Regions from separate parts of the Homo sapiens genome. Here region 2 is linked to region 1. The links come from fine-mapping of genetic effects on gene expression. A gene starts in region 1. The other region holds a variant in brackets. All regions are shown on one strand. Distances are from middle to middle.

The links.
Region 2: its variant is fine-mapped to the expression of ZMYND15 in macrophages (Nedelec 2016, PIP 0.95).

Annotation. Positions count from the first base shown.
Region 1 is chr17:4,734,637-4,743,355 of GRCh38, forward strand. ZMYND15 (zinc finger MYND-type containing 15) reads left to right here and starts at 5,197. Exons shown (of 14, transcript NM_001136046.3): 1 at 5,197-5,414; 2 at 5,883-6,504; 3 at 6,946-7,180; 4 at 7,279-7,434; 5 at 7,695-7,855; 6 at 8,667-8,719. The coding sequence starts at 5,913. CXCL16 (C-X-C motif chemokine ligand 16) reads right to left here and starts at 5,292. Exons shown (of 6, transcript NM_001386809.1): 1 at 4,625-5,292; 2 at 4,146-4,284; 3 at 3,772-3,854; 4 at 456-872; 5 at 1-16. The coding sequence starts at 4,703. RefSeq lists enhancers at 3,805-4,710, 4,711-5,615 and a silencer at 5,164-5,383.
Region 2 is chr17:4,760,694-4,777,076 of GRCh38, forward strand. TM4SF5 (transmembrane 4 L six family member 5) reads left to right here and starts at 11,193. Exons shown (of 5, transcript NM_003963.3): 1 at 11,193-11,406. The coding sequence starts at 11,230. RefSeq lists a silencer at 3,371-3,533. The variant A/G (reference allele first, on the strand shown) is at 9,035.

The DNA of each region.
Region 1 (8,719 bases):
TAATGAACCGGCAGATCTGGAAAGGATAAAGAAATTGAGAGATGAGCTCTGAGATCAAGGACAGTGTTTGGGGGATGATAGCTTGAACTAGGGAATCAGATGAAGACATCAACACTATGACCTGGCCCACAGTAGGTGCTCAGTGAAAATTTGTGAATTGAATGACTGGCCCTCACCTCCCTCCACAGCTTCATCTCCCACTAGCTTGCTCTAGCCATCTTCTCCATGATGTTGCTCCAAGCACTAGTCCTTGTGCCTGTGGTGGCTTCCTTCCCTCTCCACTGTCTACAGTCCCCGACTGACTGTCCTCAGAGGGCCCAGAGTCAACCTTGTGCAGACAACCTTGATACTTGTGTGCCAAGGCCAGGTTTCCAGCCACCTGAGAGCCACTGGGTCAGGATGCCTGTCAGGAAGGCTCTGGGTCCCTGGGGGGAGGGTTCAAAGGTCCAGTTTACCTGGAGAGGACTGCGGTGACTGCCCCCTCCTCCTCTTGCACAGCACATAGGAAAGGGCTGCGGTGAGGATGAAGATGATGGCCAGGAGGCACAGGACTGGCACTGTGGCTGATGTCCTGGCTGTGGGACCAGCATTTTTTTCCGGCTGCTTCTGGTTCTCCCCAGCCTCAGGCCCAGCTGCCAGACTGTGGCCCGCAGTGTGAATGGTGGTTTCATTGGGACGAGTGAGCTCTTTGTCCGAGGACAGTGATCCTACTGGGAGGGTGGGGCGCTGAGTGGACTGCAAGGTGGACAGGAGCATCTGGGCAGGGGTGTGGATATCTGAAGATGCCCCCTCTGAGGCCTGAGAAATTGGGGGGCTGGTAGGAAGTAAATGCTTCTGGTGGGCCACAATCCCCGAGTAAGCATGTCCACATTCTGGAAAGGAAAGAAATGAGGAATCAGGACTATCAGGAGACAAGGTGAAAAAGCAGATAGAGGTGTAGGGGAGAAAAAGTAATATCTTTTCCTCACCCATCGCAAGGGTCAAGGCTGATACCCCTATAAATAAAAAACATTAACAAGAGAAAAGCCTAACATTTATTTAATCACAGTTTTACATGACATAGGAACCTTCAGAAACAAAGACCCGAGAAAAGTGCATTTTTATGCTTAGGCTTGCTGTGAAGAATGGACAGCTGTATAGACGTATGATTGGATTGGCCGGGCGCGGTGGTTCACGCCTGTAATCCCAGCACTTTGGGAGGCTGAGGTGGGTGGATCACCTGAGGTCGGGAGTTCGAGACCAGTCTGACCAACATGGAGAAACCCAGTCTCTACTAAAAATACAAAATTAGCCAGGCATGGTGTCATGTGCCTGTAATCCCAGCTACATGGGAGGCTGAGGCAGAATCGCCTGAACCCAGGAGGTGGAGGTTGCAGTGAGCCAAGATTGCACAACTGCATTCCAGCCTGGGCAACAAGAGCGAAACTCCATCTCAAAAAAAAAAAAGAAGTATGATTGGACAAAAAGGGTATGATCTAATGGCAATAAATGGGGGGTGGGGGACCAGCAAGGCCTGTCCAGATTCTTCTTGGCCTCCAAGTATAGGGCAGGACCCATCTGAAATGAGAGCCTATGACCTACTTCCACGTGAAGTTAGAGAATTCCTTTATGGCCAGCTCTCACAGAAAAACAGAGCAGAGTGAGCTACTTACTTCTGCTGTTTTCGTAATTACCAAGGTGCCATGTTTTGGAGTGTCATGTTCTGAGCTCCAACAGAGGGAAGAGTGAGTCAGGGAGGTTATCACGCTGAAGGCCAGAAGAGGAAGGCAGATGACAGACGGAAAAGGTAGGGGACAAGGAAGTGAGCGAACCACGAGACAAGTGGGTGTCATGAACTGGGAAATCAGAAGACCAGGGTTGGATTCCAAGCTCTGCTGTAAAGTAGCTGTGTAACCTCAAGTAGCTGTGTAACCTCACCCCTTGTCCCTAACCTCTCCGGAAGTGATATCTTCCAGCTGTAAAATGAGGATAATTGTAGTACCAAGGGCCAGGGTTCCTGGGAGGATGAAAGGAAATCATAGAGGTCTAGGCAGACTTAAAGGCAGTATGGATGACACAGATCCTACAAAACTTTAGCTAGGACATGGAAGAACCTTTTGTATTTTAATGGTTGTATATTTATTTTAAGAGAAAAATATAACCAATGCATCAAACTTGTGACTTCACAGATATTATTGCTTAGGATAATTTACTATTTAAGTTTTCTTTCTTTTTTTTTGTTGCCCAGGCTGGAGTGCAATGGCCTGATCTCGGCTCACTGCAACCTCCGCCTCCAGGTTCAAGTGATTCTCCTGCCTCAACCTCCTGAGTAGCTGGAATTACAGGCACATGCCACCATGCCTGGCTAATTTTGTATTTTTAGTAGAGATGGGGTTTTACCATGTTGGTCAGGCTGGTCTCAAACTCCTGACCTCAGGTGATCCACCGGCCTCAACCTCCCAAAGAGCTAGGATTACAGGAGTGAGCCACCGTCCTGGCCTCTACTTAAGTTTTCAAAACTAGTTTGTGCACACTTAAAAGTAATTCATTTCATTGTATGTAAATTTGAACTCAAAAGAAAAAAAAGCATTAAAATATTGAACTCTACTTAATATACATGCTGAAATGTCTTGGGATGAAGTGCAATGATGTCCACAATCTGCCTTGAAATGCATCAAGAGGCCGGGCACTGCGGTTCACACCTGTAATCCCAGCACTTTGGGAGGCTGAGGCAGGTGGATCACCTGAGGTCAGGAGTTTGAGACCAGCCTGACCAACACGGTGAAACCCCATCTCTACTAAAAAAATACAAAAATTAGCTGGGCATGGTGGCGGGCACCTGCAATCCCAGCTACTCGGAAGGCTGTGGCAGGAGAATTGCTTGAACCTGGGAGGCGGAGGCTGCAGTGAGCTGAGGGCACCATTGCACTCCAGCCTGGGCGACAGAGCAAGACTCCATTAAAAAAAAAAAAAAAAAAAAAAAAGAAATGCATCAAGAAATAAGGTGATGGATGATGGATAGAAGAATGAATAGATGGATACTTAATAAAGCAAATATCGTGTAATTGCTGTAAAATTGATAGTGTAAAATATATGTTTATGTAAATATGTAAAATATACATATATAAATAAAATTGTAGAATCTAGGTGGAGGCACTGGATATTCAGTGTGCCATTCTTTCAACTTTTGTATATGTGTAAATTTTCATAATAAAATATTGGAAAAGAAAAATAGGCCAGGTGTGGTGGCTCACGCCTGTAATCCTAGCACTTTTGGAGGCCGAGGCGGGTGGATCACAAGGCCAGGAGTTCGAGACCAGCCTGGCCAACATGGTGAAACCCTGTCTCTACTAAAAATACAAAAATTAGCCAGGCTTGGTGGTGCGCGCCTGTAATCCCAGCTACTCAGGAGGCTGAGGCAGGAGAATCTCTTGAACCTGGGAGGCAGAGGTTGCAGTGAGCCAAGATCGTGCCACTGCACTCCAGCCTGGGTGACAGAGTGAGACTCCATCTCAAAAAAATAAAATAAAATAGTACTTTGATTTCAAGAAAAATATTAATAAGTAGACAATAGCACACGTGGTAGAATGAATTGGCAAAACTCATGAAGGTGATGGTGAATGATCACCCCGTTTGGCAAACAGGGACTCGAGTCTAAGTACTTTGGACAGGATCAGAAGAAGGTTCTAGGAATGTGCGGCCCCAGGGGAAAAGGCTCAGGTAAAGAAAACTGTCAGGTGGAAGCTGCTAAGCCCTGGAGGCAGAGCCTGAAGAGCAGTGGAAAAGTCTCACCTTTGAGATCAAGACAGCTCATCAATTCCTGAACCCATGGGTCCTTGTTGCCCCCACACACGCTCCAGGAAAGGAGCTGGAACCTGCGGAGGAGAGACCTGGGCTTAGCTGCGGCGCCTTCTTTCCTTCCCCGGCTCCTTCCTCATTCCAGAGGCGTGAAGTTGCCACCAAGAAAGAGCCCTTTCTCCTGGGACTGGGAAACTCCCCAGTAGGTGAGACGGAGTCATGAAGTTTCGGGGAATGAGAGCAAACGGAACCCGGAGATGGGGCTCGGTGAGCCGGGAAGGAGTTCAGGCTGGACCAGAGAGGGTCCTGGAGGCACCTGCAAGGAGGGGCCGCCCAGGCGCTGCCCTCGCAGAGGCAGGTAAAATTACCTCGTGTAGTATAGACACCGATGGTAAGCTCTCAGGTGTTTCCGGAGACGATTCATGAACTGAACCGATGGCGGGGAGTCGGAAGAAATTCTTTTACCACAATAACAACTTCCAGTGACGCTGCCCTCGTTGCCATTGCCTGCGCGGGACGGAGGTGGTCGGCACCCATTCCCAGGCCCAGGGTCCCCACTCCGCTGTTCCCTGGCATCCAATCCACAGCCCCATGACAGCCTCTCGGTGGACCCAGGGTCAGAGCGCCAGGCTCAACCCACACATCATCACGCCCCCGACAACATCCATAATCCCGCCCGGAGCCAGGCGTCCCCGGGCCTCTGTCCCCAACCCCAGGCGGCTGGCTGGCTTTCCTCTTGTCCCCGCTGCCTTCATCCACTCAACTCCGTGGGCCTCGTGTCCCCTCCCCAACTCACCCCCTTCCCGTGACAGGGGAATCTGGGTCCCCTGCCCCGCCCCCGGCTAACCTGGCTGAGTCAGGTACACCAGCAGGAGCAGAAGCAGGAGCAGGAGCACGCGGGACCCGGGCCGCAAGTCCCGTCCCATCTCGGGGCTCCGCGGACTCTGCGGGGATGGAGCCACCTCGCTCTGACTCCCAGACATGCTCCGGCGCGTGACGTCCAGCTGGTGTCTCAATGGCTTTCGCCGGGGACCGGAGGAGACGGCGGCCGGAGAGGAGGCGCGAGCCAGCTGCACCCCCCGGCCCTGCTGTGCCCCGACCGTGCGCTCAGTACTCGGCCCGCGCCATGCCAGCCTCTGGACGCAGGGAAAGCCGAGGAGGTGGAGCTCCCGCGCCCTGCGCCCCCGCACTGGGCCCGGCTCCGTCGAGGGAAGGCCAGGAATCTTGGAAGAAACCGAAAGAAAACTCCGGCGGCGGGCGAGGAGGGGCGGGAGGACGACGGCCCGAGGAGCCGATTCGGTTCGGTTCAGGAGGCCGCCCGCCTGGCCCGTCCGCCGACCTGTGAGGCGGCTGCACTGCCGGACCGGCCCTCCTCCTCCGAGGCACTTTCACTTCCCCGATCCGGGCGCCGCGGGACCCAGCCGCGCTGCATGAGCCTCCCGGGCGGCCCGGTGGAGAGAGTCGCCGCCAGCCCCGGCCGCGCGCACCTGCGGGGCAGCCACCCGCGGACGCACCGAGCCCGGGGGGCGTGGCCGCCCGCTGAGCCGGCGAGGGCTCGGGCAGCCCTGACGTCACAACCGCACCCGCGCACCCTCCACCGCGAGGTATTTACCTTCGAAAAGTGGTGGCGGCTGCAGGTACCGGAGGAGTGGGGCGGCCGGGAGGGGCTAGGTCTACCGGGGCTGCCCGCCACGCAGATCCGAGCCCAGGGAACCCCCTCGCTCCCACTCCCATACCCCACAGACGCATCCAAAATGCTTCCCTCCCCACCAAACCGTTCCCGATAGGATTAGCCCTCTCTCCTCTCTAGCCTTAATTTAAACTCTGCTTTTGAGGGTGTGAACTCTCCAATTTTAAGCCCCAAATACCATCTCATCCCTGAGTAGTCTTCTCCAACCCTGGTCACCCACTTTCAAGTCCAGCCCCCATTTTCCTCCCTAAACTCCCATCCTCAGCCCTGAAAAATCCTCTTCTCCGCTCCTAGCATATCCACGGATCCAACCCTAAGTGACTCTCAAACCTACCCTCTCCCTCAATTTGTGACCCAGCCCCAAACTCCATCATTGCTCTCCTGTCCCTCACCATATATCCCTTCTTTTGCTCAGTCTGGGCCGGGGCCCTGTGCCGCTGAAGACATGGAGTTTGTGTCTGGATACCGGGATGAGTTCCTTGATTTCACTGCCCTTCTCTTCGGCTGGTTCCGAAAGTTTGTGGCAGAGCGTGGAGCTGTAGGGACTAGCCTTGAGGGCCGCTGCCGGCAGCTGGAGGCCCAGATCAGAAGGCTACCCCAGGACCCTGCCCTTTGGGTGCTCCATGTCCTGCCCAACCATAGTGTGGGCATCAGCCTGGGGCAAGGGGCAGAACCAGGTCCTGGACCAGGCCTGGGGACTGCCTGGCTCCTGGGAGACAACCCTCCACTCCACCTGCGAGACCTGAGCCCCTACATCAGCTTTGTCAGCCTAGAGGATGGGGAGGAAGGGGAGGAGGAAGAGGAGGAAGATGAAGAAGAAGAGAAGAGAGAGGACGGGGGTGCAGGCAGCACAGAGAAGGTGGAACCAGAGGAGGACCGGGAGCTAGCCCCTACCAGCAGGGAGTCCCCCCAGGAAACAAACCCTCCAGGAGAGTCAGAGGAGGCTGCCCGGGAGGCAGGAGGTGGCAAGGATGGCTGCCGAGAGGACAGGGTGGAGAACGAAACAAGACCCCAGAAGAGGAAGGGACAGAGGAGTGGTAAGAACCCAGGGCTGGCCCTGCCCTACCCCTTGCCCAGCCATCCTCCCTTCGGAAGCCCTCCCCTGCCACTAGTTCTGAGTGCTGGCCTTCAGGCCAATCTGGCCTGAAAAGGTGTTTTTATTGACCCACAGTGGGGTTTTTTTTTTTAATTTAATGTTTAAACATTGCAAGAAAAAAAGTATCCAGAAGTCTGGATTTACACATTCCCAAGAAAAATCTCAAGCTCTGACAGTGGGCCTACATTTCTGCATGGCAGCGCATTCTGGTCCTCTGTAGCAGCTGTCCCCTTTAGAAGGAGCGTGCCCTCTCTACCCAGAGCCCTTTACTCAGTGAGGTTACTTGCCTAGCCCCGTAGGTATTTGAGTTTGGTACTCCTGACCCTGACCACATTTGTCTCTCGCTGCCCCCTACCACCTCAACTTTTCCCTCTTTCCCCAGAGGCTGCCCCCCTGCACGTTTCCTGTCTCTTACTTGTGACGGATGAGCATGGCACCATCTTGGGCATTGATCTGCTAGTGGATGGAGCCCAGGGAACCGCAAGCTGGGGCTCAGGGACCAAGGACCTGGCTCCTTGGGCCTATGCTCTCCTCTGTCACAGCATGGCCTGTCCCATGGGCTCTGGGGATCCCCGAAAGCCCCGACAGCTTACTGTGGGAGATGCCCGGCTGCATCGGTATAGAAATCTGGTATCTGAGGCTGGGGAGGACTCGGGCCCTGGATTCCCAAGCACCTCCTCCAGCCTGATGCCATCTCCCCCCCAACTGCATTTAGAGAGCTGGAGAGCTTGGTCCCAAGGCTAGGTGTGAAGTTAGCCAAAACCCCAATGCGGACATGGGGTCCCCGGCCAGGCTTCACCTTTGCTTCCCTTCGTGCTCGAACCTGCCATGTGTGTCACAGGCACAGCTTTGAAGCGAAGCTGACACCTTGGTGAGCAGCCCCAAAGCTGGGGGAGAGGAAGACCCCAATAGGCAAATAGAAGGAAGGCAGGGTGGTGGGGGGCGCCTAGCAGACAGAAGGAGAGGCAGGGACATGAGAAGATGCAGAGGAAACAATACAGACTGTTACAGGCGGTTAGAGGGTGTAAGACAAACAGACCGAGTGACATATGGGCAGCTGCTGGGCAGTTGAACAGCAGACAGGACCTACAGAGGTTAACACTAGGTGCCCACCACCCGCTGTGTCCCCAGCCCCCAGTGTAGTGCTGTCTTGTATTGTGGAGAGGCTTGTCTCCGGGCTGACTGGCAGCGGTGCCCAGATGATGTGAGTCACCGATTTTGGTGCCCAAGGCTTGCAGCCTTCATGGAGCGGGCAGGAGAACTGGCAACCCTGCCTTTTACCTACACCGCAGGTACCATAAGGAGGTCAGAATGGTTGGGGGAAACTGGGACCAGGTCTTTGAGACTGGGAATTAGATGTCTGGGAACAGGGTCCTGCAGTTGAAGGCTGAGTGTCTGGGGCTAGAGCCTAGATCCCTGGAACAAGGGCAGGGGCTGGGTGTTTGGGGCTGGAGACAGGGTCTCTGAAGCCGAGGCCTGAGTGTCTGGGTCCCTGAGAGCGTGCAGGGATTGGGGGACAGGGATTCAAACACTTACTTGCTTCCCAGCTCCACCACTAACTGCAGTGTGACCTTAAACAAACCACTTTACTTCTTGAAGCTTCCGTGTCCTCATGAGGGATACGGAGAAGGCCCATGGAATTGTTACAAGGATTATCTTGGCTTGGTGCCTGGTACGCTGGAGGCACTCAGAAATGGTAGTTCCCGGCCTGACTGGAACCAGACTTAGAACCAGGGTCCTCGCGGGAGGCTAGGGAGAGTTCAAGGCTGGGGTTCTAGGCCGGGCAATGGTTCACACCCGTAATCCCAGCACTTTGGGAGGCCAACTTGAGCCCAGGAATTTGAGATCAGCCTGGGCAACATAGACTCTGTCTCTACAAAAAATAGAAAAAATTAGTCAGGCATGGTGCACTCGCTTGTGGTCACAATTCTCGGGAGACTGAGGTGGGAGAATCGTTTGAGTCCAAGAGGTCGAGGCTGTAGTGTCCCGTGATCACGCCACTGCACTCTAGCTTGGGTGATAGAGCAAGACTCTGTCTCAAAAAAAAAAAAATGTCTGGGGTTCTAGCCCAGCACCTCAACTCCTCCCCTTCTCCTTCTCCAGAGGTGACCAGTGAAACCTTCAACAAAGAGGCCTTCCTGGCCTCTCGGGGCCTC
Region 2 (16,383 bases), 30 kb after region 1:
CACACCTGGCCTTTTGTTTGTTTTTGTTAGAGACAGGGTCTTGCTCTGTCACCCAGGTTGGAGTGCAGTGGCACAATCACAGCTCACTGTAACTTGCAACTCCTGCCCTCAAGCAATCCTCCCGCTTCACCCTCCCAAAGCACTAGGATTACAGGCATGAGCCACCATGCCCAGCCCTACTGGAGCTTTGTAGTAAGTCTTGATGCTGGGTCGTGTCAATCTTCCAACTTTGCTCTCTTTCAATATTGTGTTGGCTATTCTGGGTCTTTCGCCCCTCCAGACAAACTTTAGAATCAGTTTGTAAATATCCATGAAATGGTTTTCTGGCATTTTGATTGGGATTGTGTTGAAGATACAGATCAATTTGGAAAGAACTGACATCTTGACAATGTTGAGTGTTCCTATATATGAACATGGACTCTCTCCATTTATTTATATCTTCTTCGATGTCTTTCATCAGAGTTTTGTAGTTTTCTTCATGTAGATCTTATACGTATTTTGTTAGATTTATATGTAAGTATTTAATTTGGGACAGTGCTAATGTAATTGGTACTGTGTGTTATTTGAAGACATTATAAACAGCAATTCAACTCAAGAAGTGTAGTACCAGTAGGGTTCACAACTCAGCTGAGGTGATAACAATACGAACAGCTACGACTGGGTTCTCACAAGTGTAGGCAAAACCTACCATGTTGTATGACACCATGGATTGTACAATATATCCTAATTTTGGGAAAAATAAAATGTGCTAAAACACGTGACTTAGAATTGATTGGCCAGGTGCAGTGGCTCACACCTGTAATCCCAGCACTTTGGGAGGCCGAGGCGGGCAGATCACTGGAGGCCAGAAGTTCGAGACCAGCCTGGCCAACATGGTGAAACCCCATCTCTACTAAAAATACAAAAAATTAGCCAGGCGTGGTGACACATGGCTGTAGTCCCAACTACTCAGGAGGCTGAGGTTTTAGTGAGCCAAGATCACACCACTGCTGTACTATAGCCTGCGTGACAGAGTAAGATTCTGTATCAAAAAAAAAATTTGAAATATGCTAAATATTTAACAAATAGGCCAAGCAGGTGGCTCACACCTGTAATCACAACACTTTGGGAGACCGAGGTGGGTGTATCACCTGAGGTCAGGAGTTCGAGACCAGCCTGACCAACACGATGAAACCCCATCTCTACTAAAAATACAAAAAATTAGCTGGGCTTGGTGATGCGCGCCTGTAATCCCAGCTACTTGGGAGGCTGAGGCAGGAGAATCACTTGAATTCGGGAGGTGGAGGTTGCAGTGAGCCCAGATTGCACCACTGCACTCCAGCCTGGGAGTGAGACTCTGTCTCAAAAAAAAAAAAAGAAAAGAAAAGAAATAAACGTCACTGACTCAATTTCACAGTATTCTCATAACCAATTTAAAGTCTAGAAACCACTGGAAAATTTTCCATTTTTCCCAGTTTATATCCTAGGAGAAAGCAAATCTAATTGGCCTGGACACTCAGCTTATGGTACAGTTTACAAATTTCTGGTAACTTCCACTGCTTTAAACGAAGACTGAAATTACCAATGTCTCAAATAGAGTAGAAGTTTATTTCTTGCTCACAAAATAGTAACGAGGCTGCCGGGCCCGGTGCTTCACGCCTGTAATCCCAGCACTTTTTGGGAGGCCGAGGGGAGTGGGTCATTTGAGGTCAGGAGTTCGAGACCAGCCTGGCCAACATGGTGAAACCCCGTCTCTACTAAAAATACACAAATTAGCCAGGTGTGGTGGTGCCCACCTGCAATCCCAGCTAGTTGGGAGGCTGAGGCAGGAGAATTGCTTGAACCCAGGAGGCAGAGATTGCAGTGAGCCAAGGTCGCACCACTGCACTCCAGCCTGGGCAACAGAGCGAGACTCCGTCTCACAAAATAAATAAATAAATAAATAGTAAGGAGGCAGGTGGCCCACAGCGGCACTCCTGCTCTTCTAGGTTGTTCGGGAGCCCAGAATCCTGATATTGTTGTTCCACCATCTCTAAGGGTTGTCCTCACCAAAGAGTCCAAACGGTTCAACTCCTGGCCTACATTCCAGCCAGCAGGATGAGGAAAGGGAAGCTCATTCCTTAAAGTCTACCACCAAAGTTGATTGTTGCAGCCATTAAAAAAGAACAAATTCATGTCCTTTGCAGCAATATGGATACAGCTGGAGGCCATTATTCTAAGCCAATTAACACACGAACTGAAAACCAAATATTGCATGTTCTCACTTACAAGTGGGAGCTAAGCACTGGGTGCACATGGACATAAGGATGTAAACAATTGACACTGGGGCCTCCAGAGGGGAAGGGAGAGAGTGGGGAAAGGGTTGAAAAAACTACTGGGTTCTGGCCGGGTGCGGTGGCTCATGCCTGTAATCCCAGCACTTTGGGAGGCTGAGGCGGGTGGATCACCTGAGGTCAGGAGTTTGAGACCAGCCTAGTCAACATGGTGAAACGCCATCTCTACTAAAAATACCAAAATTAGTCAGATGTGGTGGCATGCGCCTGTAATCTCAGCTACTTGGGAGGCTGAGGCAGGAGAATCGCTTGAACCCAGGAGGCCGAGGTTGCAGTGAGCCGAGATCGTGCCACTGCACTCCAGCCTGGGTGACAAAGTGAGACGCTGTCTCAAAAAAACAAAAAACCAAAAAAACTACTGGGTCCTATGCTCAGTACCTGGGTGACAGGATTAATCATGTTCCTAAACCTCAACATCACACAATATACCCTTATGACAAACCTGCACATGTACCCCCAAATCTAAAATAAAAGCTGAAATTATAAATAAATTGAATACTTTGTTGTGGGGATCTCATAAAACTTACAGAAAACATCTGCATTATGCCTTAAAACCAACATTGCAGTAAGGTAAGATCAACTAGCAGCATTCTCACAAAAAGGAAACAAAGTTGATCAAATCATTTACACTCCTTCCCATAAGCCATAACTATGTGACAACGCATGGCCACAGCTACAAAAGAAGTTAGAAAAAATAGGGTTTTTTTGTTGTTGTTGTTGTTTTGACACGGGGTCTCGCTCTGTCGCCCAGGCTAGAGTGCATGCAGTGGCATGATCTCAGCTCATTGCAACCTCCGCCTCCCAGGTTCAAGCGATTCTCCTGCCTCAGCCTCCGGAGTAGCTGGGATTACAGGCATGTGCCACTACGCCCGGCTAATTTTGTATTTTTATAGAGATGGGGTTTCTCCATATTGGTCAGGCTGGCCTCAAACTCCCAACCTCAGGTGATCCACCTGCCTTGGCCTCCCAAAGTGCTGGGATTACAGACGTGAGACACCACGCCTGGCTAATTTTTGTATTTTTAGTAGAGATGAGGTTTCACCATGTTGGCCAGGCTGGTCTCAAACTCCTGACCTCAGGTGATCCACCCGCCTCAGCCTCCCGAAGTGCTGGGATTACAGGCGTGAGCCACCGGGCTTGGCCGAAAATATAGTCTCTAGCTTAGCAGCCATGTGCCTTTAGCAGCAGACTACAAAGTCTGCTACTATAATAAAAGCAGAAGACTGGGACTAACTCACTATCTCTGTCACATACTAGGTCAAGCATGTGCTACTCAGCTATGGGCAGTGAGTACGGAGCCACAGAGTTTAGACAGATTCCCTGGAGAGGATATTCGCTGGATGCCTCCCCATCATTCATTCTGTCTTTCCTCCTTCCTAATACTGCCCTTAATTTCCCAGCCTGGTGGCTTAGACAGAATTGACAACACCCCCTGTGCTGGAATGCCTCCATGTGAAGAAGGACATGTTTGCTTCCCCTTCCGCCATGATTGTAAGTTTCCTAAGGCCTCCCCAGCCATGCTAAACTGTGAGTCAATTAAACCTCTTTCCTCTATAAAGTACCAGTCTCGGGTATGTCTTTATTAGCAGCGTGAGAACAGACTCATACAGCATGTTCTACCCTCTGGCCACAGTGATCCGTGTAAGGGACAGACATAGAACCCAGTCTGCACCAAGGAGAAATTTTCTGGGGTAAATGGGAAAGAAACTTCCTCTCTACTCAGGGAAAGCTATGCGAGGAGATTCTCTTCCTCCTGGTGGTAGGGTGTAAAGACATAAGGTCTGAACTGCTGCAGCTAATACTACTGTCAGGAGGAAGATCCCACTTAAGGAGGAAGTCAAAGCCAAAAAAAGGAACAGCAGAGAGAATGGCAGAGAAACAAGAACACTGATGACATCCTGAACTTCTGGACCAAACTGCACCTGCAGTTAGTCCTACTTCAGTCCTACTGGATGTTTTGATTGCTTGAACCAATAAATTCCCTTTTTGTTGCAATAGAGTTGGGTTTTCTGTTACCTGGTATAGTTCCTTACAATGGACCCAGAGTATGGCAAGCAATAATGACATATTTAATAGTATTAATATCATTTTTAGAATTTACATTATACAGCTGCCCTTTAAAAGAATTTTTTTTTTTTTTTTTTTTTTTGAGACAGAGTTTTGCTCTTGCCCAGGCTGGAGTGCAATGGCGCGATCTTGGCTCACTGCAATCTCCACCTCCCAGGTTCAAGCGATTCTCCTGCCTCAGCCTTCCCAAGTAGCTGGGATTACAGGCATGCGCTACCAAGTCCAGCTAATTTTGTATTTTTAGTAGAGATGGGGTTTCTCCATGTGGGTCCGGCTGGTCTCAAACTCCCGACCTCAGGTGAGCCGCCTACCTCGGCCTCCCAAAGTGCTGGGATTACAGGCGTGAGCCACCACGCCCGGCCACTTCAAAAGAAATTTTTACGGGGCTAGGTGCAGTGGCTCACGCCTGTAATCCCAACACTTTGGGAAGCCTATGTGTGCAGATTTCTTGAGCCCAGGAGTTCAAGACCACTTGGGCAACAAAATGAAACCCCATTTCTACAAAAAATACAAAATGATGGCTGGGCTCGGTGGCTCACACTTGTAATCCCAGCACTTTCGGAGGCCGAAGTGGGCGGATCACCTGAGGTCGGGAGTTTGAGACCAGCCTGACCAACATGGAGAAACCCTGTCTCTACTAAAAATACAAAATTAGCCGGGCGTGGTGGCACATGCCTGTAATCCTAGCTACTAGGGAGGCTGAGGCAGGAGAATCGCTTGAACCTGGGAGGCAGAAGTTGCAGTAAGCTGAGATTGCGCCATTGCACTCCAGCCTGGGCAACAAGAGTGAAACTCTGTCTCAAAAAAAATATATATATATATATTTACATATATACACACAAAAAGATTAGACAAGCATGGTGGGTGGTGAACATCTGTAGTCCCAGTTACTTGGCAGGCTGAGGCAGGACGATCACTTGAGCCCAGGAGATAGAGTTTGCAGTGAGCCAAGATCATGCCACTGCACACCAGTCTGGACAACAGAGTGAGACACTGTCTTTAAAAAAAAATGAGACTGGGCACAATGGCTCTGGCCGGGTTGTGGTGGCTCATACCTGTAATCCCAGCACTTTGGGAGGCCAAGACAGGTGGATCACTTGAGGTCAGGAGTTCAAGACCACCCTCCAACATGGTGAAACTTAGTCTCTACTAAAAATATAAAAATTAGCCAGGCCTGGTGGCCCATGCTTGTAATCCCAGCTACTTGGGGGGCTAAGGCAGGAGAATCGCTTGAACTCAGAAGGCTGAGGTTGCAGAGTCAAGATGACGCCACTGCACTCCAGCCTGCATGACAGAGCAAGACTCTGACTCAAAACAAAAGAGAAGAAAAATATTTTTTTCCAAAATGTGCATCCAGTTTTGTAACCAGATATATGAAATTTATTTAGACTTACGTCAAGACTTCCCCATTTTGGGGTTTTTATTTTACTTCATCTCTTGGTGAGTCAACACAATTTCTCTAAAAAAAAGGAGCCAAAGTGTTATTTTGAAATCCAAACATTCTCAGAAATGCAATTGTGTTGCCCTTAACATACAAAATGCAACTTAGACATGTATATGATAGTTCTACCTTTTTTGGTGGACACAGCTGCCTTACTCCTTTGTCCTCTGACATTCAGTATTTCAGAGAAGACTCTGGCCACACCAACTATTGTTTCTTTCTAAGTAGCCTTTTTAAATTCTGCCTAGATGTATCCTTTAATTCAGATATTTTGTCAGGATGAATCTATGGTCAGCTGACTTTTAATATTTTACCTGCCGTGCAGTATAACTTTCAACCCACTGACCTGAGTGGATCTATCTGCGCTCAGTGACGTCTTCTCCTAGTGCAGATGTTTTAACTGTGGTGTCACTTCCACCAGTTCTATTCTTGTTCTTAGGAGAAGCCAGTTTCCTGAATTTTTTTTTTTTTTTTTTTGAGCCAGAGTCTCACTCTGTCACCCAGGCTGAAGCGCAATGGCGTGATCTTGGCTCACTGCAATCTCCACCTCCCGGGTTCAAGCGATTCTCCTGCCTAAACCTCCTGAGTAGCGGGGATTACAGGCACCCGCCACCATGCCCAGCTAATTTTTGTATTTTTAGTAGAGACGGGGTTTCCCCATGTTGGTCAGGCTGGTCTCGAATTCCTGACCTCAGGTGATCTGCCCGCCTCGGCCTCCCAAAGTGCTGGGATTACAAGCGTGACCCACTGAGCCTGGACCTTTTTTTTTTTTTTTTTTTTGAGATGGAGTCTTGCTCTGTTGCCCATACTGGGGTGCAATGGTGCGATCTCGGCTCACTGCAACCCCCACCTCCCGGGTTCAAGCGATTCTCCTGCCTCAGCCTCCTGAGTAGCTGGGATTACAGGTGCCTGCCATCACACTTGTCTAATTTTTGTATTTTTTGTGAAGATGGGGTTTCGCCATGTTGGCCAGGCTGGTCTCAAACTCCTGACCTCAGGTGATTCACCGAGCTTGGCCTCCCAAAGTGCTGGGATTACAGGCGTGAGCCACCGCGCCCGGCCAGCCTTTTCTTTCTTAAGTTATTCTGTTCCTAGTTCCAGGAGAATTCTAGTGATGTCATCAAAAATCTTCCTGGAAATCTCTTCCAAATCCTATAGTAAATGTTCCTCCAGAGGATTCTGTTTCTTTCAGTCTTCAGGTTGATTTGCCCTTCCCTGGTTTTGAGAAAATTTTTCAGAATCCCTATAATGTTTTGTTAACATTATTAACATTATTTCATTCATCCAGAATTGTATAAAAATAATGTAATGAATGCCTGTGGACCACCCCACCCACACAACTATTTTTTTTCTCTTTATTCATCCTCAAAACAGACACCATTTGGCTGGCCGCAGTGGCTCACACCTGTAATCCCAGCATTTTGGGAGACCGAGGTGGGTGGATCACCTGAGATCAGGAGTTCGAGAGCAGCCTGGCCAACATGGAGAAACCCTGTCTTCATCTCCACAAAAAATACAAAAATGAGCCAAGCGTGGTGGCGGGCACCTGTAATCCCAACTACTTGAGTCTCCTGAACCCGGGAGGCGGAGGTGGCGGTGAGCCGAGATCACGCCACTGCACTGCAGCCTGGGCAATAAGAGTGAAACTCTGTTTAAAAAAAAATAAAAAAGAGGCACCATCTCTCAGAATCAGCTTGAGCAACTTGTAGACAAATAGGTGGCCAGCTCTTGGCCCTGCTCTCTGTCCATCAGATCAATGGCTGAATCCCCTCTTCAGGTCCACGGTTGGAAGGGCCACTATTCGGGATATGACAGTTGCTCTGGTAGTTCAACATTAGTGCTGGTGACAACCTCTCATCGGCCACCTCCTGAGGAACCAGAGTTTTCCAGTGCCTGTGCTTCTCCCTCTGGCGCTGTTTCAGAGTAACTATTCTCCATACACTTCTCTTGCTGTGACTTCTGCTTATTTCTGGTGTCAGTTGCCTCTGGCTTTTGATTGCTTCTTTCTTGCATACAACTCTCAGTTTGAAGCCACCCCACTCTCTGATGACTGTCTCAGCTTGTCTCACAGACACATTTCCCAATCATGAAGATCCAGTCGGTGGATTGGTCATTATCCAGTCAGTGTACCTCTGTTGGATGGAGTTCTCACCTCGAGAGACCTCACAGGTCGCTGGCTACATGTCTGCCTTTGGGTCAGCTACTTGTTCCTCAATCAACCAGCCCTGGCCTAGATAAGGGGGTCTGTGTTAGGAACTTGTTACTGGGCAACAAACCATCCCCCTCGACGAAGTCTTAGTGTCAAATAAATATAAGCATTTATTTCACTGATACACACATAGGAGTTGGCTGGGGGTCAGGTGATCTAGGGTGGGATCCAATGTGACCCTTTTCCTTGTATCTTTTTTTTTTTTTTCTAGATGGAGTCTTCCTCTGTCACCCAGGCTGGAGTCCAGTGGTGCAATCTCGGCTCACTGCAACCTCCATCTCCCGGGTTCAAGCAATTCTCCTGCCTCAGCCTCCCGACTAGCTGGGATTACAGGTGCCTGCCACCACACCCAGCTAATTTTTTTTGTATTTTTAGTAGAGACAGGGTTTCACCACGGTAGCCAGGATGGTCTCGATCTCCTGACCTCATGATCTGCCCACCTTGTCCTCCCAAAGTGCTGGGATTACAGGCGTGAGCTACTGCGCCCGGCCAAAAGAAATTTTTTAAATTAGTTGAGTGTGGTGGTGTGGGCCTGTAATCCTGGCTACTAAGGAAGCTGAAGTGGGAAGACAGCTTGAGCTAGGAGGTCATAGCTGCAGCGAGCCATGATTATCTTACCATGGCACTCTAGTCTGAGTGACAGAGACCCTGTCTCAAAAAAAAAAAAAAAAGGATAATGTAAAATCTTTAAAGAAAAGGGACAGAGGCTGGGCGCAGTGGTTCATGCCTGTAATCCCAGCGTTTTCGGAGGCCGAGGCGGGGATCATCTGAGGTCGGGAGTTCGAGACTAGCCTGGCCAACATGGAGAAACCCCGTCTCTACTAAAAATACAAAATTAGCTGGGCGTGGTGTCGCATGCCTATAATCCCAGCTACTCGGGAGGCTGAGGCAGGAGAATTGCTTGAACTTGGGAGGTGGAGGTTGCAGTGAGCCATGATCGCACCACTGCACTCCAGCCTGGGCAACAAGAGCAAAACTCTGTCTCAAAAAACAAAAAAGAAGAGG[A/G]ACAGAAAACATCAGAAGCAATATGGAAATGTTGTTTAAAGCATTAAACATGCCAACAGAAGCAAAACCAAATGTATCAGTCATCATAATTACCTATGAGTCAGAGACAAATAGTTGGGGAGGTTCAAAGTATTTTCTTTTTCAGGCATCCTCTGATTCAAGAGGTAAATTCTCCATGTATTTTTCTCAATCCAGTTCCTCTGTCTTATAAATAGCAGAGATTCTGGCTTTTCTCCATTTTCCACATTTCTGTAGTGGTCTGAGTGGGCCGCAAGGAGGGGCTGCATCAGGGGCCACTGGCTGGTGACACTTTCCAGGTGACAGCCTCATTGCATACCCTCTGAAGCCCTGCAGCCCTTCCTGCTACCCTCATCTCTTCATGGCACTCCCACATCCTACTTGAGCTAGGGCTCATTCTGTGGGGGCCTTCACTCTCCTGTTTGCTTCTGAGACCCAGGAGGCAGAGGTTGCAGTGAGCCGAGATCACACCACTAAACTCCAGCCTGGGTGACAGAGCAAGACTCCATCTCAAAAAAAAAACAACAAAAAACCATTAGCCAGGTGTGGTGGCACACACCTATAGTCCTAGCTACTCGGGAGGCTGAGGTGGGAGGATCACTTGAGCCCAGGTGGTCAGGGCTGCAGGGAGCCATGATCCACTCCACACCAGCCTGGGCAACAAAGGGAGACCCTGGTCTCAAAAACATTTTTTTAATTAAAAAAAAAAGAAGTCGACTGGGTGGCTTGGCTCATGCTTGTAATCCCAGCACTTTGGGAGGCTGAGGCAGGTGGATCATTTGAGGTGAGGAGTTTGAGACCAGCCTGGCCAACATGGTGAAACCCCGTCTCTACTAAAAATACAAAAATTAGCTGGGTGTGGTGGTGGGCGCCTGTAATCCCAGCTACTTGGGAGGCTGAGGCAGGAGAATCGCTTGAACCCAGGAGGCGGAGGTTGCAGTGAGCCAAGATCACGCCACTGCTCTCCAGCCTGGGCGGCAGAGTGAGACTCCGTCTCAAAAAAAAAAGAAGTTATCAAGGAAACTGCAGCACCCCAACAAAAACAGAACTTCTTTGACCTCAGAATGGAAAAATGGCAGAAGCTGATTCTCACAGAGTTGGCTCAGATCGCATGGCTGTTGCTAAATCAAACACCGAGGCTAGCAGGATAGAACGCTCTCATCAATGAGGCCTAGGTCCCGAGCCCACCCTGAGAGACAGGCAGTGGCCTCAAGAGGAGGAGACATCAATAATCAAATACCAGGAAGACGAAATGCAAGGACAATAAGAGCCCACAATCACCTCTTTAATTTCTCCCTGGGAAGAATGCTGCCTGAGAGGCTGGCAGAAACGAAGAGGCCACCACACATCTGCTCTGTGCTTCCTAGTTTACAAAATACTTCTCAGGTTGTCCCATTTAATCCTCACAAGTAGCCCACAAGGCAAGTGGCATCACTTATTTATTTATCTATTTATTTATTTATTTATTTATTTACTTTTTGAGACAGAGTTTCATTCTTGTCACTTTATTTACTTATTTATTTATTTTTCGAGACAGAGTTTCACTCTTGTCACCCAGGCTGGAGTGCAATGGCACAATCTCAGCTCACTGCAACCTCCACCTTCCAGGTTCAAGTGATCCTCCTGCTTCAGCCTCTCGAATAGCTGGGATTACAGGTGCCCGCCACCATGCACAGATAACTTTTGCATTTTTAGTAGTGACGGGGTTTCACCACGTTGGCCAGGCTGGTCTCAAACTCCTGACCTCAGGTGATCCACCCTCCTCGGCCTCCCAAAGTGCTGGGATTACAGGTGTGAGCCACCGTGCCCAGACACAAGTGGCAACTGAGACTTAAGAGACATGAAGGGGCTTGGCTAAGTTGCAAAGCAGGTATGGAACCAACAGAGGGGCTGTGGAGCTGTGCAGAAAAAACAGGAAGGCACTAACCCAGGGTAATGTGTCCATAGCCCCCACCTTGTCCAGCACCACATCCTCCCTTCACCTCAGGGCTGCAGCTCCTCCGCCTCTGCCTCCTCAGGGCCCACATCCTGTGCCTCTCTCCCTTATCATTCTGATCCTGCCAGTTTCTGCCACGCCTCTGTCTGAACTTTGCTCCGTGCTCCAGGCTTGTTTTCCTCTGGACCTGGGAACCACTGGCTTACTTTCACTCACCGCCTGTCCTTCCTGACACCTCACCATGTGTACGGGAAAATGTGCCCGCTGTGTGGGGCTCTCCCTCATTACCCTCTGCCTCGTCTGCATTGTGGCCAACGCCCTCCTGCTGGTACCTAATGGGGAGACCTCCTGGACCAACACCAACCATCTCAGCTTGCAAGTCTGGCTCATGGGCGGCTTCATTGGCGGGGGCCTAATGGTGAGAAGGCTGGCAGGGGAGCCCGGGCCAGCTGGCTGGGTGCCACCTAAGGGGTTCTGAACAGGAGGGAGAGGGAGAGAGGAATAAGAATGGTTGCTTGGGAGAGGATGGCAATGGCTTCGTGGGGGCTAGCAGCCCTCTGGAGTCAGTCCTGGAGGAGCCCCAGGGTCCCAAGCTGAATGTCTGTGGGGCACAGAAAGGACGAGAGCCTCACTGCTCTAAAGAGCTCCCCTACCGGGTAGGGAGCATGTCCTGCCTGTCCTCCCTGTCCCCACTGTTGAGCAGATGCTGGGAAAACCTCACTACAATGGTCGAGGCAGAAGGAGCAGCTGGTTGTCAGAGACGTCATCGGGGCAGGATAATAACAGGCATGAGGGTGGGGCGCAGTGAAATTACCCAGAGCCAGGGACTGCCCTCACGGATCAGTCACCCTCGCTTGCCTCCACGTCCATTCACTCTCACCCCACATTTCTGGAAGCCCAATCTGTGCGGACTGCTAAGGATAAACTCAGAACTTAGGTCAGTATGGCAGGGAGGATGCCCTCAAGTCGTCTTCCGGGAGATGAGAATCTATTTGCCAGGGGCGGAGGTGGGGGTTGGTTTTTGTGTTTGTTTTTTGTTTTTTTTTTTTTTTGAGACAGGGTCTCTCTCTGTTGCCCAGGCTGGAGTGTGGTGGTGCGAACATGGCTCACTGTAGCCCCAACCTCCTGGGCCCAAGCAGTCCTCCCACCTCAGCCTCCGAGCAGCTGGAACCACAGGTGGGCATCACCACACCCAGCTAACTTTTAAATATTTTATTTATTTTTATTATTATTATTTTTTTGAGACGGAGTCTCGCTCTGTCGCCCAGGCTGGAGTGCAGTGGCGCCATCTCCGTTCACTGCAACCTCTGTCTCCTGGGTTTAAGCAATTCTCCTGCCTCAGCCTCCTGAGTAGCTGGGATTACGGTCACGTGCCACCACACCCAGCTAATTTTTGCATTTTCAGTAGAGACAGGGTTTCGCCACGTTGGCTAGGCTGGTCTCGAACTCCTGACCTCAGGTGATCCGCCCCCCTCGGCCTCCCAAAGTGCTGGGATTACAGATGTGAGCCACCGCCCCAGCTTACATTTTTTGTAGAGACGGAGTATCTCTGTGTTGCCCAGACTGGTCTCAAACTCCTGGATTCAAGTGATCCTCCTGCCTCAGCCTCCCAAAGTGCTAGAATTATAGATGTGAGCCACCACGCCTGGCCAAGACTAGGATCTGTCAGAAGTGGAGGAAAAGGAGACACAGATTTCCCCAATTTACTAACCCCCATCTTCCAACTCTCCACCCATTCAGGGAAACTTTGGGATGGTCAACCTCGTTTAATATCTTCATGCGATAAAGACAAAAGATCTACCCAGCACAGTTCCCCACTTCTCAGGACAGTTGGCTAATGACATTCTCCAGGGGAGAGCTCCCCTTGGTCCCTTTTGCTGGTCACACCTCGCTGGTCACACCTCTATTTGCTAAAAGAGGATACCTCTCCTTTAACCAACAATCCCCTCTTACTCTCTAGTATCTTTTCTTCTACTCCCTCCTCCTGCATGGATTCTTGGCTGCTGTACTCTACTCTATCGCTCTAAACTCAACTCTCTTTGAGAGTCACACTCCTCTCAGGCTGACACACTTAGCCATTGTCACGGGGTGCTCCCTCTGCAACCTGAACCACCCCTGTCTCCCCACACTCCTCTGCCCCATCTAACCAGCTTGCTTCAGCGGAGCTCCCTGAGTCTGCCTTCCCCAAATATGCATTCACAGCTGCCTTCCCTCCACCTCTGTGCCCAGAGTCACTCTCAAGAAGCACCACCCGGTGGGCATGGTGGCTTACGCCTGTAATCCCAACACTTTGGGAGGCCGAGGCGGGCCAATCACCTGAGGTCAGGAGTTCAAGACCAGCCTGGCCAACATGGTGAAACCCCGTCTCTACTTAAAGAAATATACAAAAATTAGCCAGGCATAGTGGCGGGCGCCTGTAATCCCAGCTACTCGGGAGACTGAGGCAGGAGAACCCGGGAGGCAGAGGTTGCAGTGAGGCGAGATTGCGCCATTGTGCTCCAGCCTGGGCGACAGAGCAAGACTCCATCTCATACATAAATAAACAAATAAATAAGCACTGCTGTATATCACAGGGACACAGACAGGTTCCTGCTCTCCCTGAAGCTTGTGTTCCCTTTGGTAAGGCCACCAGTCTCACGGAAGCAAGGCTGGAAGTCCCACGAGAGCAAGCACTGCCTGCTTTGTTGGCCACTATGTACCCAGTGCTAGACCAGCACCTTGCACTAAACAGACACCCAATTAATAGTCATGGAATGGCAGCGTGTGCCTGTAGTCCTAGTTTGGGCCCAGAAATGAAAGATTGCAGTGAGCTATGACCACGCGCCACTGCACTCCAGCCTGGGCAACAGAGCAAGACCTTGTCTCAAGAAAATAAAAAATAAAAAAGTCATTGAATGAAGTATAGAACTAGGCAAGGCAATTTCAGATAGAAGTAGGTACCATCGGCCGGGCGCAGTGGCTCATGCCTGTAATCCCAGCACTTTGGGAGGCTGAGGCAGGCGGATCACCGAGGTCAGGAGTTCACGACCAGCCTGACCAACATGCAGAAATCCTGTCTCTACTAAAAATACAAAAATTAGCCAGGCGTGGTGGCGCATGCCTGTAGTCCCAGCTACTCAGGAAGCTGAGGCAGGAGAATTGCTTGAACCCGAGAGGCGGAGGTTGCAGTGAACCAAGATTGCACCATTGTACTCCAGCCTGGGCAACAAGAGTGAAACTCTGTCTCAAAAGTAAAAAATAAAAATAAAATGAAATGGTGCTGGCATGAAGAGCTCCTAGGCAAAGCAGATGCCACTTTTTATAGGATTTTCAGGGACAGGCTCTATGAGGTGATGTCTGAACTGAGACCCAAATGACAAGAAGAAGGTGTGAGTGTTGCAGACACTAGGGGCTGGTAGTACAAAGCCTAAGGTGGGAACAAGCTCTACACTTCTGAGGATCAGACAGGTGGCCGGTGAGGTGAGATGTAATGAGATGAGGTCTGAGGAGGGCAGAGGCTAGGCCTGGAACACCCTGAAAAGCCACAGTGGAGTCATTTGAATTTTTATTATTATAAGTACAACAGAAAACTATTGAAGGACTTTTTTTTTTTTTTGAGACGGAATCTCACTGTGTCGCCCGGGCTGCAGTGCAGTGGTGCGATCTCGGTTCACTACAAGCTCCACCTCTTGGGTTCACGCCATTCTCCTGCCTCAGCCTCCCGAGTAGCTGGGACTACAGGCGCCCGCCACCACGCACAGCAAATTTTTTTTTTTTGTATTTTTAGTAGAGATGGGGTTTCACCGTGTTAGCCAGGATGGTCTCGATCTCCTGACCTTGTGATCCACCCGCCTCGGCCTCCTAAAGTGCTGGGATTACAGGAGTGAGCCACCGCGCCATGCCCTATTGAAGGACTTTTGGCACTTTGTTTTTTGACGGTTTAAAACTTTTTATTTAAGTCACACAGACAAGTACCCAGATCCTTAGTACACAGCTCAACAAACTTTTACAAAGTGAGCACATCTGAGCCCAGGTCAAGAAACAGATCATTACCAGAAGCCCAGACATGCTTCTCACCACACACGGAACCCCAGAATCACTTCACCAACAAGCGTAACCACTATTCTGTCTTCTAACCCCATAGACGAGTTTGGCTTATTTTGCACTTTACACAAATGGAATGATAGAGTATGTGTCTGGCTTTTTTTTGAGACGGAGCTGTTGCCCAGGCTGGAGTGCAGTGGCGCTATCTCAGCTCACTGCAACCTCCGCCTCCCAGGTTCAAATGATTCTCATGCCTCAGCCTCCAGAGTAGCTGGGGTTACAGGCATGAGCCACCACGCCTGGCTAATTTTTGTATTTACTTTAGTAGAGATGGGGGTTTCGCCATGTTGGTCAGGCTGGTCTCGCACTCCCGACCTCAGGTGATCCACCCACCTCGGCCTCCCCAAGTGCTGGGATTACGAGCGTGAGCCACCGCGCCTGGCCTGTGTCTGGCTTCTTTAGCTCCATATTACGTTTGTGAGAGCCACCCATATTATCAGGTGTAGCTGTAGTTTTCTTTTTTTCTTATACATTCTATTATGTGACTATACCTCATTTATACATTCTACTGTTTGTTTGTTTGTTTTTTTGCTTTTTTGCTTTTTTGTTTTTTTTGAAACAGAGTCTCGCTCTGTCACCCAGGCTGGAGTACAATGGCGCCATCTCGGCTCACTGCAACCTCTGACTCCCAGGTTCACATGATTCTCCTGCCTCAGCCTCCTGAGTAGCTGGGATTACAGGCATGTGCCACCGTGCCCAGTTAATTTTTGTATTTTTAGTAGAGACGGGGTTTCGCGATATTGGTCAGGCTGGTTTTGAACTCCCAACCTTAGGTGATCCGCCTGCCTCGGCCTCCCAGAGTACTGGGATTACAGGCATAAGCCACTGTGCCCGGCCCATTCTACTGTTGAAGGAGATCTGGATCATTCCCAGTTTGGTTTTTTTGCAAATAATGCTGCTATAAATATTCTTGTAGATGTATTTAGGTACAAATACGTGTGCATTTCTATTGGATAAAAACCTAGCAGTAAAACTGCTGATTCTTAAGACATGCAAGTATTCAGCGCTAATAGATATTGCCAGTTTTCTGTAGTTCTTAGTGTGAGAGGTCTGGTTGCTCCACACGCCACTGGAATGAAGAAGACTCCTTTGACCACTGTGTGGAGAATGGGTAGTAGAAGGTCTGCAATATATACAGAAAAAGACCAAACTGAGCTGGGCGTGGGGCCTCAAGCCTGTAATCCCAGCACTTTTGGAGGCCGAGGCCAGCGGATCATGAGGTCAGGAGTTCGAGACCAGCCTGACCAACATGGCGAAACCCCGTCTCTACTAAAAATACAAAGTTAGCAGGGCATGGTGGTGCATGCCTGTA